Regions from separate parts of the Homo sapiens genome. Here region 2 is linked to region 1. The links come from fine-mapping of genetic effects on gene expression. A gene starts in region 1. The other region holds a variant in brackets. All regions are shown on one strand. Distances are between the middles of the regions. Region 1 holds the start of CMTM7 (CKLF like MARVEL transmembrane domain containing 7). Region 2 overlaps CMTM7 (CKLF like MARVEL transmembrane domain containing 7).

Region 1 (8,344 bases):
ATTCTCACATGGTGGAGAGAATGCCAGCAGGTTCTCTGGTGTCTTTTTTATAAGGACACCAATCCCCCCCTGAGGGCCCCACCCTCATGATCTCACCTAAGTCTAACTATTGCCCACAGGCCCCATCTCCAAATGTCATCACATTGGGCGTTAAGTCTTCAACTTTTAAATGATGGGGGGACACAAACATTCAGTGCATAACACTGCCTAATATTCACTCCGCTTTCTGATACTCGCACCCTGGTTTTCCTTTTGGGAACCACCCCTTCCTCACTCAGCTCCTGTGGTTCTACTGGGCTGAACCTATCCCACCCCCAGCTTCATGGGTAGGTAGAACTTGACCTGGCCACCAAAAATGTTCCACTCCTCTGGCCATAGTAATTCGTTGAAAGATGGAACCATGACCCATATTTGGACTAATGAGAGATAGTGCCTATTATGGACTGAATTGTGTGTCCTCCCTGCCCCAAATACATAGGTGGCAGCCTTACCCCCAAGTGTGACTGTATTTGGAGATGGACTCTTTGGGGAGATAATATGGTTAAATGAGGTCATAAGAGTGGGGCCAGAATCCAATAGGACTGGTGTCCCTTTAGGAAGAGACACCAGAGATCTCTCTCTCTCTTTCCATGTACACAGAGAAAAGGCCATGTGTGGACACAGCAAGAAGGTGGCCATCTAAAGTCATGAAGAGAGGCCTCACCAGAAACCAGCCCTGATGGCAACTGGATTTTGAACTTCTAGTCTCCAGAATTGTGAGAAGTGAATTCTTGTTGAGAAGCCACCCAGTATGTGATATTTTGTTATGGCAGCCTAAGACAGTACCAGAGCCACTGGAAAAGACAGGCTGAAATAACGAAGGCAGGATTATTGTGTAAGCCTGAGCTGTCAGAGCTCATGAGAGGGCCTGCCTGAAAAGCCAACACAGAGCAGAGTGAAGCCAGGAGATGGAGGTCCTGACTGTGCCTGAGGAGCACCTGGATCCAGCCATGCCTGAAGTGGGTGTATACCTCTGCATATCACAGTTACTCAAGCCAATGAATTATTTTGTTTTGCTTTTTATTAGTTTGTTTGTTTGTTTTTGAGACAAGGTCTCACTCTGTTGCCCAGGCTGGAGTGTAGTGGCACGATTATGGCTCACTGTAACATTGAACTCTTGGGCTCAAGTGATCTTCCCCCCGCTCAGCTTCTTAAGTTGCTTGGACTACACATCTGGCCAATTTTTTCATTTTTTGTAGAGATGGGGGTCTCACTATGCTGCCCAGGCTGGTCACAAAATCCTGGCCTCAAATGATCCTCCTGCCTCGGCCTTCCAAAATATTGGGATTATAGGCATGAGCCACCGTGCCAAGCCTATTTTGTTTTTTGTTTTGTTTTGTTTTTAAAGACAGGGTCTTGCTATGTTGCCCAGGCTGGCCTGGAACTTCAGGGCTCAAGAAATCTTCCTACCCCAGTCTCCTGAGTAGCTGGGACTACAGGCATGCACCACTGCTCCCAGCTTGAATGAACTCTTCTTTTTGCTTGATTTTAGTTTGTCTCATCAAAAGCACTGTGACTAATACAGAGTCAACTCTAATTTTATTACTTTTTTCATTATATCTGATCAGATATAACATCATAAACACACTGGTGAAGAAGAGTTATAGTCAGAGTACCACTCGAATTGAAGCTTTAAACTGTCAATAAGCCACCTGCAATCCCTCGGTGTAGAGAAAAGGAGAACTTGGACATCTTGATTTCTCACCAGGTATTCAGAGGTCACCTACCTGGTTGGTTCCCTCTTAGAGTGTGACATCTTTAAAGTGGGCTATGAAGCCCTTTGCCTAAGACCTTGCTTTCCCAAGGGGCAGCTATTCACATCTAGCAGACAACACACTAGTGTAGACATCTCAGTGCACTTGGCAAGCCTCTGAAGCCTCTTCTTGTAAGTCAGGCCAGCAATGGCCCTTGCACTGGCAAGCATCTTGCTCAAGCTCTTAAGTGATCATAATAAAGTGATTAACACAGAGTGCCCAGCACAGTGATTACTTCTGATTAGAGGTGGGTGGTGCATTAGTCAACACCAGGCAGAAAAGCCCAGCAATGTTTCTGAGCAGACTCAGGAAGAGATAGTTGTTCTCAAACTTGAGTATGCATCAGAATCACAGAATGATGGTGAAGGGGGGTGGGGAGTGAGGGTGGGGTTGGGAAGACTTGTTAAGACACACACTGCTGAGCCCTACCCCTAGAGTTTCTGATTCAGCAGGTCAGAGTGGGCCCCTAGAATCTGCATTTCTCACAAGTTCGCAGGTACTGCTGGTTGGGGGGCTATACACTGAAAATCACTGTTAGAAGACTGCTGAATTGGACAAAGGCCCCTCAAAGGAGAAATGATCCAGCACTTGGTTTTTCTGCTTCCCTGAAACCCTCATCTCAACAAAGATGCCCTGTTATCTCCACTGTGGGTCCTGAAGCCTTAGACAAGTACAGAAGTGAAATGTACATCTACATAAAAAAATGATACACAGTACTAACTTCATGCCTGTGGGTATAGAGCCAGAAATGTCACAGCACACCTGCATATCTATCACATTGTCACAGCAGCCCCTAGATGCAATTATTCCTGAATTACAGAGAAACAAATGGAGGTACCAGGCAGCTGTGACTGTTGTCTACAGAGAAGACACACGTGGAAGGCAATTTTTCTTGGTCATGAAAATTGTCAAATGTACATAAAGGTGAAATAAATAGTGTAATAAATCCCCAAATGTTTCAACTGCAGTGGACTCTGGCAATGACAGTGGTTCTCAAATTTGAGTGTGCATCAGAATCACCTAAGAGACTTGCCAAAACAGATATTGCATGGGTATCATCCACCAACAAGAATTATTAGGACTTTGCCACATCGAAAACTCTTCTGATGACAAGACAGCACTGGCAGGGAATAAACTCACAAAGATAGTTTTATGTTTCACTTTGCTTTGTTTTGTTCTTGAGGCAGGGTCTTGCTCTGTCACCCAGCCTGGAGTACAGTGTTGTAATCATGACTCACTGCAGCTTCAACCTCCCGGGCTCAAGCAATCCTCCCACCTCAGCCTCCTGAGTAGCTGGGACTACAGGCATGTGCCACCATGCCCAGTTAATTTTTGTATTTTTTTGTAGAGATGGGGTTTCTCCATGTTGCCCTTGCTGGTGTCAAACTTGGGCTTGTGAGCTTGATTTTGGGATTACAGACATGAGCCACCGTGCCCAGCCAGATTTTTTGATGTTATCTCCAAATGAATAAATGTAAGTATGGCCACAGGGACACTGCTCAAAAGGAACATGATAACATACCTCGTTTTGGTAGTCCCGTTTGGGCCTGTCTTCATTTTTATGTTTTTTTCCTTTTCTTTTTCTTTTTCTTTTTTTAAGAGACAGTGTCTCACTCTGTCACCCAGACAAGAGTGCGGTGGCAAGATCATAGCTCACTGCAATCTCGGACTCCTGGCCTCCAGGGATCTTCATGCCTTGACTTCCCAAAGTGCTGGGATTATAGGTGTGAGCCACCACGCCTGGCCTCTTCATTTTTAAAACAACCCAAAAGGGATACAGAATAGAATGTCACTTGGATAGCTGTTTGACAGCTTTTTCTTTTTCTTGTCTTTTTTTTTTTTTTTAATTGAGACAAGGTCTTGCTCTGTGGCCCAGGCTGGAGTGCAATGCCACTGTCATGGCTCACTGCAGCCTCAACCTCCTGGGCTCCAAGGCTCCTCCAGACTCAGCCTCCTGAACAGGCATGTGCCACTGCACCCAGCTAATTTATTTATTTATTTATTTTTATTTTTATTTTTATTTTGAGACAGAGTCTCGCTCTGTCGCCCAGGCTCGAATGCAGTGGCGCAAGCTCTGCTCACTGCAAGCTCCGCCTCCCGGGTTCACGCCATTCTCAGCATCCCGAGTAGCTGTGACTGCAGGCGCCCGCCACCACGCCCAGCTAATTTTTTGTATTTTTAGTAGAGACGGGGTTTCACCGTGTTAGCCAGAATGGTCTCGATCTCCTGACCTCGTGATCCGCCCGCCTCGGCCTCCCAAAGTGCTGGAATTACAGGCGTGAGCCACCGCGCCCGGCCCAGCTAATTTATTTTTATTTTTTGTTTTTTGTAGAAATGAGGTCTGGCCATGTTCCCCAGGCTGACAGCTTCTAACAGAAGCAAACATATGCTCCCCTTGTAACCAGTGCGTTCACTTGCAGATATTTGTCCCAGAGAAATGAGAGTTTGTATCCACCAAAAAAACGTGTACCATAATAGTGACTATAGCCAGAAAAGAGATGAGGGAGGGGGGAAAGGCCGGAAGGAGGGAAGGAGGCAGGCAAGCAGGTAGGAAGGAAGCAAGCTTGGTGTCCATCAACTGGGTAAACGTTTAAAAAATACGGTATCTTTGCACAGTGGAGTACTACTCAGCAATAAAAAGGAAGGAACTGATATGAACTACTTATATTCCCAACAGGATGGATCTTCTAATTTGTTATGTTGAAGGAGAATATTCTGTATTACTTCAAGTTTATGAAGTCCAAGAACAGGCAAAATGAACCTACAGTGACAGAAAGCAGAATACACTGTAGTGGTTGCCTGAGGCTGGATAAGGATGGGGCCAGGGAAGGAAGGTAGGTCAGGAAGGCCCACCACGGAACTTTCTGGGGTGATGGGCACGTTCTATTTGTTGATCTGGGCGACGGTTACACAGGTGTACACATATATAAAAATTAGTGGAGCTGAACACGTAAGGTCTGGGCATCACACTTTATGTAAGTTAAACTTCAGTAAAGTGCTCTCAGCACACATCCGCAGCCGCACCCACACAAAATCCCAGGAGGCTCAGTACCAGCTGTGGTCCGGGCCTTGCCCACCTCGGAGAGGCCACGACCCAAGGCATCCGGTTTCCTCTCGCTCCAGTCTAACTTCCGCGCATCTACGAGGGCCGGGACTGCCGCTACCTTTCTGGAAGGCGCCGGCCGGCCAGTCACCGGAGGGATCCCGCCAGAGGCGGCTCCGCGTCTCCAGCAGCGGGGCAGGGACCCGGGCGCCCCGCCCTCGCCAGCGCCCGCCCCCGCCCGCCCCCGGCCCGCCCTCTGTATCTGGCCCCTGGGCAGCTGCCCGGGGAGGCGGCCAGCGAGCTGGGGCCGCGCAATGTCGCACGGAGCCGGGCTCGTCCGCACCACGTGCAGCAGCGGCAGCGCGCTCGGACCCGGGGCCGGCGCGGCCCAGCCCAGCGCGAGCCCCTTGGAGGGGCTGCTGGACCTCAGCTACCCCCGCACCCACGCGGCCCTGCTGAAAGTGGCGCAAATGGTAAGTGAGCGCGGGGCGCGAGGCCGAGGTTCTACAGGGCGTCCCGGGAAAGCAGGGGTCCGGGAGCGGACGCGCCGGGCGTCTGGACCCGGCCGGAGCCCAGGGAGCATCGCGCAGCGGGCGGGGCACCGCGTCGCTAAAGTTCGCGGCAGGCTTCCTCCGGGAAAGTTGCTGCCGCAGCCCCCGCGCTGGAGCTCAGTCCCCAGAGCCGCCCCGGCCCTTGCTCCCGCGGACCCAGGTCGCCAGGGTCGCAAGTTTCTCCGGCCACCCCCCTGCGAAGCCTGACCCGCCTACTGACTGAAACCACGGGCAAAGTTCCTTTTCGTCTTTCTTCCTCTTCTCTGGGCCGCGCCGCTTCGAACCCGAGCCGGGGGTGGAAGAGTCGCCCAGGCGGCGGCGCTGAGGGAGCGAAACCCGACCTCTTCCCCGTCCACGGCCTCCTCTTTCCTCCGAACCCAGCGCGGCAGGGCTTCCCTGCTCTGTGTGCAGTTTCGCTCGAAGGAGGAGGTCAGAGGGTCTTGTGTTCCATAGTGGGGAAAAAGAACTGGGACCGTTGAGACGGCCGTCCTGGTCCCCTGCGCCCTCAAGTTCCGAGGGAGGGCCCGGGTCTCAGGGGGCTCTGGAGGGCAGGGGGTCAGTTGGGAAAGGCCTGTTGTCAGGGGCTGGTACTCATGTAGGGGAGCCAGACTGTTGAATGGGAGTCACCCGTGGAGCCAGGCAGGATGAGTGTCTGGGCTTGGATTGTGACCAACTCAGCACAAGGGCCTCCTACCAGGGCAGACGTTGCCTGGCCGATTCTCTTGTTCCCCACTCTTTTCTTTTCTCCCCTCCCGTTTTTTTCTTCTTTAAAAGTTTGTAATCTGAAACAACTTTTCCGTTTGTATGATGTGTTTTGAAACTGGGTTGGGCTGTTTGTGAGTCTCCACCATTGTAATGTTTGCACCAAGAACGGTGGGGAGGGGAGCGGTAAGTTTCAAAAAGAGGTGTGGGGAAAGGAGTGTGGGGCTGGACAAGGTCACACACCCAGAAGCTGGGGCCTGCTAAGGTGGCCTGGCCCCAGGGGGTTGGGCACAGGACGTCTGTGCATCTATAGCACTGCCATTCCAGACACTGAGTGTGCATGAGGTGGCCCTCATGTCTTGCTTGGGCCAGACCTAAAGAGAAGGGGCGCTGAGTTCCTGCCTCCCTAAGAACGGTGTCTAGATAGACCAAAAACTAGGAAGAGCCATTTCAGCAACGTACAAAAAAATCTGGTGCTGAGCATTGTTGGGTTTGAGCAGGGCATTTTTTGGCCCAGGCTAAGAGATTTGATCAGCCAAATAGAAGAGACCAGCCCATCTCACCATCCTTAAAAGATGGGCTGGGGTGAGACATATCCTACCTGAGCATTGGAAGGGATGAGTTTGGTAGACAGAGAATGGGATCAGAAGCCTCCATCTTGGCCCCTGAGTTTGCTGGACAAAGATATTGTGGGATGAAAAGTCTTCTTGTTGGTCTATGAGTTTGGTACACAAACATAATGGAGATGAAACCTCGGCAACATAGCGAGACCCCATCTCTACAAAAAAAATTTTAAAACCTTGTGTGGTTGGCATGGGCCTCTAGTCCCAGTTACTTGGGAGGCTGAGGTGAGAGGATTGATTGAACTGAGAAGGTCAGTGAACTGTGCCACTGCACTAGTCTGCGTGACGGAGGGAGGCCTGTCTCAAAAAAAAAAAAAAAAAAAGGTACAAAGAAAAGGTAATGGAGATGAGAAGCCTTCATGTGGTCCATGATTTTGATGAATAAAGATACTGGGAGATGAGAAATCTCCATCTCATCTTAAGCTCCTCAGCTAGCCTCTGGCCTGTGGTCCTTGGGCCAATTTGCAAGTGGCAAGAGTGGGGCCTGTTGTTCCAAAAAAGAGAACAAAGACTTGAATAATTTCTTTATCTGGTTGCTTATTCTCTATGTGCTCCTCTTAAAACCATGCTGAGGAGTCTTACACCTGCCCTGGAGGATTCCCCATCACTGCTGCAGGCTTGTTTGATCAGACCCTCTGGGAGCAAAGTTGCCCTTGCAGGATGGCTGTATTAGTCCTAGTTAGGGCTATCTACTTGGGCCTCTTATCTAACTCCTCCCTATTTTCCCACTTCTCCTCTTTTCTAAGACTCTGCTTGGGCATTTGAGGTTCATTTGTCTTCTTTGCTGGAAAATGCTTGTTTAGCCAAGTTTTAACATTGGGGAAGGGCAGAAGCAGCTAAATTAATGCCACCCATTGGGGCTTTCTTTCTATGGGTCTCTCATTTTGACCATCAGTTTCTCAGTTTCATACTGAACAGGTTGACCCTTTTGTCCTCAGCTTCTCATGAAATGTTTTCATCATGATCTGATCAATAGATCTGCCAACACGTTGTCTTAAGAAATCATTGCAAAGGCTGTTCCACTGGAGAATGACTTCCCTTGTCTTGGCCTCTTCTGGGTCCACCATTACTAGAAAATGAGTTTCTGAGTGAATGTGTGTACTTGACATGTCATTTATACATGTGTAATTTTTATAATCCTCTGGCCATGATAATTCAGTTTCTTTGGTCTTCCTTTTTGGAGTAGAGACACAGTCACAGGTTTTGACTTTTGACTTTAAAGCACTCTTTTTTTTCTTTCTTTCTTGAGAGGGAGTCTTGCTCTGTCACCAGGCTGGAGTGCAGTGGAACGATCTCAGCTCACTGCAACCTCTGCCTCCCGAGTTCAATCAAATCTCCTGTCTCAGCCTCACGAGTAGCTGGGACTACAGGCACGTGCCACCACACCCAGCTAATTTTTGTATTTTTAGTAGAGATGGGGTTTCACCATGTTGGCCAGGATGGTCTTGATCTCTTGACCTCATGATCCGCCCCCGCCTCTGCCTCCCAAAGCGCTGGTATTACAGGTGTGAGCTGCCGCGCTCGGCTAAATGACTTTTTTTTTTTTGAGCGAGACAGAGAGGGTCTTGCTCTGTCACCCAGGCTGGAGGACAGTGGTGTTATCATGGCTTACTGCAGCCTTAACCTCCTGGG
Region 2 (8,312 bases), 63 kb after region 1:
TAATCGGTACCCTGCTCCTCCTCATCGCCTCCATTGTGGCAGCTTCCAAGAGTTACAACCAGAGCGGACTGGTAGCCGGAGCGGTGAGGATGTTTTGGGGAGCCTTTAGGAATGAATTCTTATTTAAAATGCTCATTTTCTTCCTGATGGGGGAAGAGAAGGGCTTGGTTTCTGGGGCATTCCCTTCATAGAATCAATACCTACCTTGATCCAGCCATCAGCTCTCTCCAAAGAGCCTTAAGCAGAGGCGTACAGTCCCAGAAGGTGGATTGTCAGGGCTGCCAGCAAATTCATAGACCCCAGCAGCCCAGGCCTCTCTCTCTTACAGGCACTACTGAAATCAGGGGGCCAGGCGGGTTTTAATTCACACACCCACTCTGATCATTTGCTCGTTGGCTGCCTCAGCACTATGCAGAGACAGATGCTGGAGCCTCTTTTGGGCCCAGTGGGAAATGTACTGTGATCAATTAGAGATACATGCCATGAGCCTGAGCTTTGCCATTCCTGATTTTTAACAGTATTCAGGCCAGGAAATAATACTCCTGTATCTTTCAGAGGCAAAAATTGATCCATCTGATAGCCATAAATAGAAGTAGATGGAAATATACAAAAATACAGTCCTGTGAGATATATACATACATATATATGTATATACATACAGATGTATATGCTATTTTTTTAAAGATTCATAGATTCCTGTCATCTGATTTCTGATTTAGCTAACTATTTATAGTTCAGTGGCCTGTGGGCCAACACTGATTTGCTTCACTGATGAGCAGACAAGATTTTAAAAATGAGTTTTGAGAAAAGCTCTCTCAAGCCAGATGTGGTAGCTAGCATGCACCTGTAGTCCCAGGCACTCGGCAGGAATGCTTGTGCCCAGGAGTTCGGTCTGGCCTGGGCAACGTACTGAGACCCTGTGTCTTAAAAAAAGAAAAAGAGAAAAAGAAAAGCTCTCTCTGTATGTGACATTCATTGTCTTTCACTTACGTATATTACCAAAATTTTCCAGACTTTGGCCTGGGAGTGGGTTGGCTCCTGGAATTCCACTGAGGGATGGAGTCTCTCCTCTGAAGGTCAGCATGGGGGCAGAAGGTCACTGTAGAGGGTGGCCAAACCTCCCAACACTGATGCTCCACATGGCCCTCCCACAGCCCACCATCACACCTCTCTGCCCCCTCTCTCTGCTGTCTCTGAAGAGAGGGATGGTTGCCCCCTGAAGCTTAACACCTGCCCAGCTACAGTGCAGGGTACTGGAAGAGGCACACAGGAGACCTGTGCCCACTGTGTTTCCGGGCCCACTTGAGGAGATTCCCACTGTGTTTAGTAATTCAGGTTGCACATAACTGTTTAGCCCTGGAATCTCTATAGCTAACATTCATCATATGCTGTCTGTGTGCCTAGGACCAAACCTGGGCTATGAGGAAGTTAGAAGAAATTTTTAAAATATGGTCCCTGCTTATAAGAAAGTGGTCATCTAGCTTAGGAGACAAGACACATGAAACAATTAGTAAACAAGGCGTTGTAGTCTAGAATAGCATTCTGTAGCGATATAATAAACTGTTCAATTATGCAGTGCAGACAGTTGGGGACCGGGATGGTATATAACGTGCTAATTGTGCAGAACAGACAATGAGAGGCCGGGACAGGCTCTAATAGGCTAATTATGTGCTGTAGACAATTGGTACAAAAGGAGCCCAGGAAAAGAAACCCGGGGAAGAAGTGGATGTGGGCTGGTGGGGGCAGCTGTTTATGTAAAGCAGCATCTGGGCTTGAAAAGAAAACCAAACCTTGTTGAAAATCCTACCCTTAGCTGCCCCTGCGCCATTCTCACTGGACACCAGTGGCGGTGTAGTGAAGTGGAGGCCTTTGTGTGGGTCTGAGAACACCTAGGCACCCGGTACTGCAGAGTGCGGACTCTGGAGCCAGGCTCCCTGGGCTCCCATCCCATATCTGGCCCTTGCTGGCTCTGTGGCCTTCGGCAAAACAGATGACCGCCTGTACCTCTGTTTCTTTAGCTGTGAAATGGAGGAGCAGGGTGGGTAATCCTAGCACCCACCCAGCAGAGTTGTGAGGGTTAAAGGAATCAATACACCCACAGGGCCTCACACCCTGGTAGGGATGTAGTAAAGTGGTCAGTAAGTTTTCACCACTGCAGCTGCCGGTGTTGTTCACAAGCAAGGAAAATGGCTGCAGGCTTCAAAGCCCAGAGATTCCAGAAGAAGCTACTGCCTCTTCCTCGACCATTTGATGAGCCTCCCACAGGCACTCTTCGTCTCCCAGCACCCGAATCTCATCTACAAGTGAGGGGGCTGGGCTAGGTCAGCCTTCCTCACACTTGAGCGCTGGATGACCCTGAGAAAGGGAAAGGGTGCTGCCTTGACTTAGTTGAGTCTAATATTGTTTAATATGTACAAACGTAAACCTAGATGTAAAGGCCTCGGCTTCTGGCTCTAATACGGCTATGAAGCCAGAATGGAACAGAAAGTCATTACAAATGAAATGCGAACAACGCCACTACACCACAAATCATGGGAACGTTCAGATTTTTTTAACCCAAATTAAAATTTCATCCTTTTCTTCTCTTTTGGTCCAGGATAATCAAAGTCCATTGGCTTAGCCCCAGCTTGCTTGTAAATGTAAACCCAGACCAGGCACTGAAGCTGCCAAGAGTGAAGACCGAGAGGCCTGGCTGCCAGCCCTGACCTGGCCCAACCTGGAGGACTGGGGCCAGTGGCTGGGCCTCGCGGGGCTTCCTCTCTGCACCTGATCCAGGATGAGGTGGTTGGGTTAGATGACTCTCCAAGCTCCTTTCTGGCCAGAGACATGAAGGGAACAAGCACAGAGATGAGAAGCAGACAGGATTGCCCGAGTAATTAGCCCTATGGCCTGTGAACTTCCTCTCCCCTCTCTCCACTGCAGATCTTTGGTTTCATGGCCACCTTCCTCTGCATGGCAAGCATATGGCTGTCCTATAAGATCTCGTGTGTAACCCAGTCCACAGGTGAGTTCTGGTTATCTGTGCACAGAGGATCTCTCAGGAACAGGGGGATGGCTTGTTCTTGACTTCAGCCATAGGGACAAACCCTGCTGTTGAGAAGGCTGTGTTCCAAGGGGACTTTAGAAGTAGTATTAGAGCACAGGGGCCAGCAAAGGGGAAGATGTGACCCCAGAATCTCCCCTCACATTCCCATCTCCACACATCCAAGGATGCCCTAACATTTCAGCCTCGGGTGGCCAAGCTTTTTTCTCTTTCTTGCTTCCTTTCTTTCTTTTTCTTTACTTTTCTTTTTTTTTTTTTGAGATTGGGTTTTGCCCTGTTGTCCAGGCTGGTGCAGTGGTACGATCAGAGCTCACTGCAGCCTCCGCCTCCCAGGCTCAAGTGATCCTCCAACCTCAGCCTCCTGAGTACCTGGGACTACAGGTGTGCACCACCATGCCTAATTTCAATTTTTTTTTTTTTTTTTTTTTTTTTTTTTTTTTTAGAGTTGGAGTCTCACCATGTTGCCCAGGCTGGTCTCAAACTCCTGGGCTCAAGCAGTCCTCCCACCTCAGCCTCTGAAAGTGCTGGGATTATAGACATGAACCACCGCACCCAGCCAGCTTTTTCTTAAGTTTCCTAATGACAAAAATAAAATGTAGGTTTTTAGAAAATACAGATAAAAAATATGTTTAATAGAAACCGTCTGAACCAGGGACAGTGGTGTGTACCCATAGTACCAGCTACTCAGGTGGCTGAGGCAAGAGGATCACCTGAGCCCAGGAGTTTGAGACCAATCTGAGCAACATAGTCAGACTCCGTCTCTTAAAAAATAAAATAAAATAAGAAAAAGCCATCTGTCATCACACTACCCAGAAGTAGCACTGAGTATCCTTTCGATATTTTCTCTCTGAAAATATATATATCTGTTGCTTTTATTAAAAGGATCAAACTTCATGTGCTGTTTCATAATATGTTTTTTCTCCTACTTAGCCACTGACCAAACATTTTCCCAACATCATTAGGAATTCTTAGCAACTCCGTGGGTTGCAGCATTAAGTCCATCGCATGACTGTGCAGTTTATTTAACTTGCCTCCTCTTTGAGGGCATTACTCATGGAATCCTACACTGAGCCCATGTAGTGTAGGATTCCACTAATAAGAATCGTCTAGAGCAGGCAGATTCATAGAGACACAAGGTAGACCCATGGCGGCCTGGGGCTGCTGGGAGAGGACTCAGGTGTGACTGCTAATGAGGATGAGGCTTCTTTTTGAGGTGATGAAAAGGCTCTAAAATTGTGGTTGCACAGTCCTGTGAATATACTGAAAAACACTTTAGATGGGAGAATTGTATGGTATGTGAATTATTAAAATATCCCAGTAAAGCTGTTTAAGAAAAAAAAGAATGATTTTTAAACGTAGAGAATATAGGGGAAAAGAGAAGTTAATAGGTGGTGTCTAACAGGATAAATCTATAAATATTGGTATAAATTGGTTTTTTGAATTATGGAAGAATCACCAAAAGAAATGGCTAAAAGGCTTGGGAGGTTGCTGCTGAGGAGTAAGACTGAGGTCGGGGGAGTGCGGATGGGAGTCACCTCTGCACTACCGAAGTTTTTTCCTTGTTTGGAAATGTATTTTTAAAAAATGGAATAATCTCAGTGCAAGTCGGCACTGGGTGGAGGACACAGGTGCCCCCCTGAGCAGAACTTGGAGTCAAACCTGTGGAGTGTGGCTTGTGGGTGGGCCACATCCCTGGCAAGCTGTCCTGACTGCCATTTCCTTCCCAAGATGCAGCCGTCTGATGAGGCCACAACCCCTAGGCCCCTCAGGAGCTTTGCAGAGAGGAGGACGTGTACTCCAGGCGAGGCCTCTGGACCTGTGTTCCTGTGCCAAAGTCCTGTCAGGCTGGTGGGCACCAGGAAAGGCCTGCACCCTCTTCCTGCTCTCCCAGGAAGCCAGCTCCCTGAGCTCCTGAGCCAGCCGGAAACTCTTCCTCCAGCCTTCCGGGGAGAACATCCCTCCCATTCTGGGAAAGGAAAGCAGCCTCCAGGGAAATGTTTTCTGCCTTCCTGCTTCTAGAACCACCTCAGGTACTGATGAACCCCACTTAGCACAGCTGAAGGGGTTTGTGAATACTCCCGCCTAAATCC[C/G]TTCTACTTCACTCCTCAGGGGAGTGAAGTGCCTTAAGAAACAAAGCCCTGTCCTAATTTATCTAGCTTGTCAGTCCGGTCTTAGAGATACCCTCTTTCCTGAAGTGAGGCGTGCCTGTAGAAACACTATGTGGTCAGCCTGTCCCCAAGGAGATCTTGTGTCTCCTCTCCATCTCTGCCTTTGTTACCAGTGTGCATGTGTTTGTGTGTTTTTTAATAAAATATTGACTCGGCCAGTTGCACAAGGATTTCTTATTGAACCAGATGAAGGCTGTAAAACCTGGCCTGAAACAGTTTCCATTCGAGCTTGTGTCTGGCCCATGGCCCTCCACCCGTGCTCTGTGTGTGCCCCTTGCTGAACTGCTGGACTTCAGGTTTTCTCTCCATCTTGGGGGATAGTATAGCAGGGCAGAGTTTTAGGTAAACATGTGCAGGTTCTCAATTATATTCACGTCCTCCTTCTCCTGCAATACCAATCTTCTCATTTTGGAAAGAGCTTTAGAGCAAGCTAAGGGTTGTGTTTACACTATGATGATTAATGATCTCGGCCTAAATGTGCTGTTTCGCTGATCTTGAGCTGCTCAGTTGGCTAGAAAAAGGAGGGATGGAACAATGTTTGAGCAACCCCGTGTGCAAGGACCTACATTCACAACCACATCTAATAGCGATGGTAGTGACTGCAAGGGGGCAGGTTATAGGACCACATTTTTAGAAATGAAATCGGGGCTCCATCCCCAGGCACAGGGCAAGCCAGTGAGGAGCTGGGCTCAGGATCTAGGTCTGCCTGACTCCCAGCCCCATCCTTGCCTCTGCTGAGTGTTGCCGGAAATGGAAGCAGCCCCTGTGGGCTTTGAGCTGGAGCTCTGGGGCTACTCTTGTGGCTGCTGGCCAGCTCGGGGCATCGGGTTCTGTCTGGGATGATCTAAGGAAGCAGCACCCGTGGTGTATCTGGAGCCGAGTGCTGCTGATGGGAGGGGATCCTGTGTACCAGCTGGGCTGGAGCGGGAACATGGCTGAGCTGACCCTGGCACAGTCGGCTCCTCCAGGGCAATGGAATGGAGGAGTCTCAGCTGAGGAGGGCACGGTCCAGGTGAGGCATTGGGTCTGGGAGCCCCCTGCCTGTGTAGTGACAATGCAGGCCTCGCCAAGCAACGAGGATCCGGGTTTGACCATTTGAGCATCCCCCTAGGAGGGCAAAGGTGGGTGGAGGACAGTTGGAGGAATAGTAGCAGGAGCCAGAGTCTGCTCAGTGAGGAAGGAAAGCAAAACGCAGAGCCAAGTGAGGCCTCCACAGACAGCGAGCAGTGGACCATGCAGCCAGTGGCTTGGCTGAGGGGTGGCTGTTTGAGACCACAGGGCCTTTTTAGAAACTGGGGTTTCTGTGACCTCCCAAAAACTGTCTGGTAAAACCATCCCTTCTAAATGGCCACATCTCCAGCACCAGGGAGTAAATGTTTAAGCAAAGAGCTAAGGATGGTGGAAAGACAGTCAGGCTGGGAGCCGCAGACGTGGGGTTGAGCCCAGCTCTGCCATTGACTAGCCCCCGACTTGGCACGGGTCATCTTGCTGAACCTTAGTTCCCCCTTTGTATAACGGAGAGAATAAGCCCATCCTGGCCTGTCTGTGACCTCCTTGGAATTCAGTAACAGAGCAGCGTGCTTACTTATCGTTATCTTTCTAATCTTAATCCCCAGAGAGGTACCAGAATGACAGGAAATGAGCAGGTTAATGTTGCAAAAGTGATCGAATCACCTGGGTGCAAGGGAGCTGGAGAACATAATTTACTTTCAGTTTCCTGGACCTTAAATTTTGTTAAAGTCAAGATTGGAAGCTGAGGGCAGTTTTCAGCCGGGCGCTGGGACCCATGGTGGACAGAGGGCATGATGAAACACCTGTAGGGAACTGGGTGGGTGAACGCATCCCCAGCAGCCGGCTCTGAGCTGAGTCGTGGGGGTCCTCCCTGCCAGAGGCCCACTAACCTCGTCTAACCTGGTGAAGGGGACACTGGCTTTTCACTTTTGAAGTATGACAATGACCTTCAGATCCTCTGCTTCTCCAGTTCTTTTAGCCCCAGTGGCGCCCCAGCCACTCAGGTACGTTCTAGAAGCAGGGCCAGCACCTTTGAGCCCCAGTCATCTTGGCAACCTCTGCACACAGCTGGCTCTCCATTGGCAATTGAGGATGCTGTTGACAGTAGGGAGAAGGAGACCCTCTGGTTTCCCTATGGTGACTCACTCCTCCTGGACACAGCTTCAACCCTAGGGAGTGAATATCTAAGCCGGGGGGCAGTGCCATTCAGCTGCCCCATGGAGGACCAGCCCCTAAACCCAGGCATTAACTCATCACAGTGCAGCACGGCCTGGGGAAGCCGACCAGCCTTCCTCCAAGAAATTGAGATGCAATAGGTCTGAAATGAGAGCCAGGAATTCCTAAGCCTTGTCCACAAAGTGGATATCACCTGGCAGCTGGTTAGAATTGCAGGATCCCAGCCCCACAAAGACCAACTAAAATAGAATCATCTGCATCATAACCGAGTCCCAGTGGTGTGTGTGCATTGCAGTATTTGTGAGACACTGTTGGAATCAAAGATGCTGTAAAGTGGGTGCAACTCTGAGGCTGATTTCACCAAAGGGGGAAGGAGATGAGAAATGGTGTCAGTTGGCGGGTTTCTGAAGCAAACCCTACTTCTCACTGGATCCACAGCTGCATTGGAAGAAAGATTCCTTTTAAGAAGTAGTTAATGGGCCGGGCGCGGTGGCTCATGCCCGTAATCCTAGCACTTTGCGAGGCCTAGGTAGGTGGATCACCTGAGGTCAGGAGTTCCAGACCAGCCTGGCCAACATGGCGAAACCTCTTCTCTACTAAATACAAAAAATTAGCTGGGCGTGATGGCATATGCCTGTAATCCCAGCTACTTGGGAGGCTGAGGCAGAAGAATCACTTGAACCCGGGAGGCGGAGGTTGCAGTGAGCCGAGATTGCGGCGCCATCGCACTCCAGCCTGGGCAACAAGAGCAAAACTCCATCTCAGGAAAAAAAAAAAAAAAAAAAAAGAAGTAGTAGCTAATGGATGATGGATGCTGGGCTTAGTACCTAGGTGATGGGTTAATCTGTGCAGCAAACCACCATGGCACACGTTTACCTATGATGTGCATCCTTCACATGGACCCCGGAACTTAA

What was found.
Region 2: its variant is fine-mapped to the expression of CMTM7 in monocytes (CEDAR, PIP 0.95). The same link has a PIP of 0.9 or more in B cells, CD4 T cells, monocytes after LPS and monocytes after interferon gamma.

What each region holds. Positions count from the first base shown.
Region 1 is chr3:32,386,757-32,395,100 of GRCh38, forward strand. It overlaps CMTM7 (CKLF like MARVEL transmembrane domain containing 7), which reads left to right and starts at 5,097. Exons shown (of 5, transcript NM_138410.4): 1 at 5,097-5,309. The coding sequence starts at 5,151.
Region 2 is chr3:32,449,470-32,457,781 of GRCh38, forward strand. CMTM7 (CKLF like MARVEL transmembrane domain containing 7) reads left to right here. Exons shown (of 5, transcript NM_138410.4): 3 at 1-83; 4 at 2,923-3,004; 5 at 4,772-6,059. The coding sequence ends at 4,785. Among named protein-coding and RNA genes, the nearest start is that of CMTM6, 49 kb to the right of the region's middle. RefSeq lists an enhancer at 4,261-4,761 and a silencer at 6,408-6,477. The variant C/G (reference allele first, on the strand shown) is at 5,134.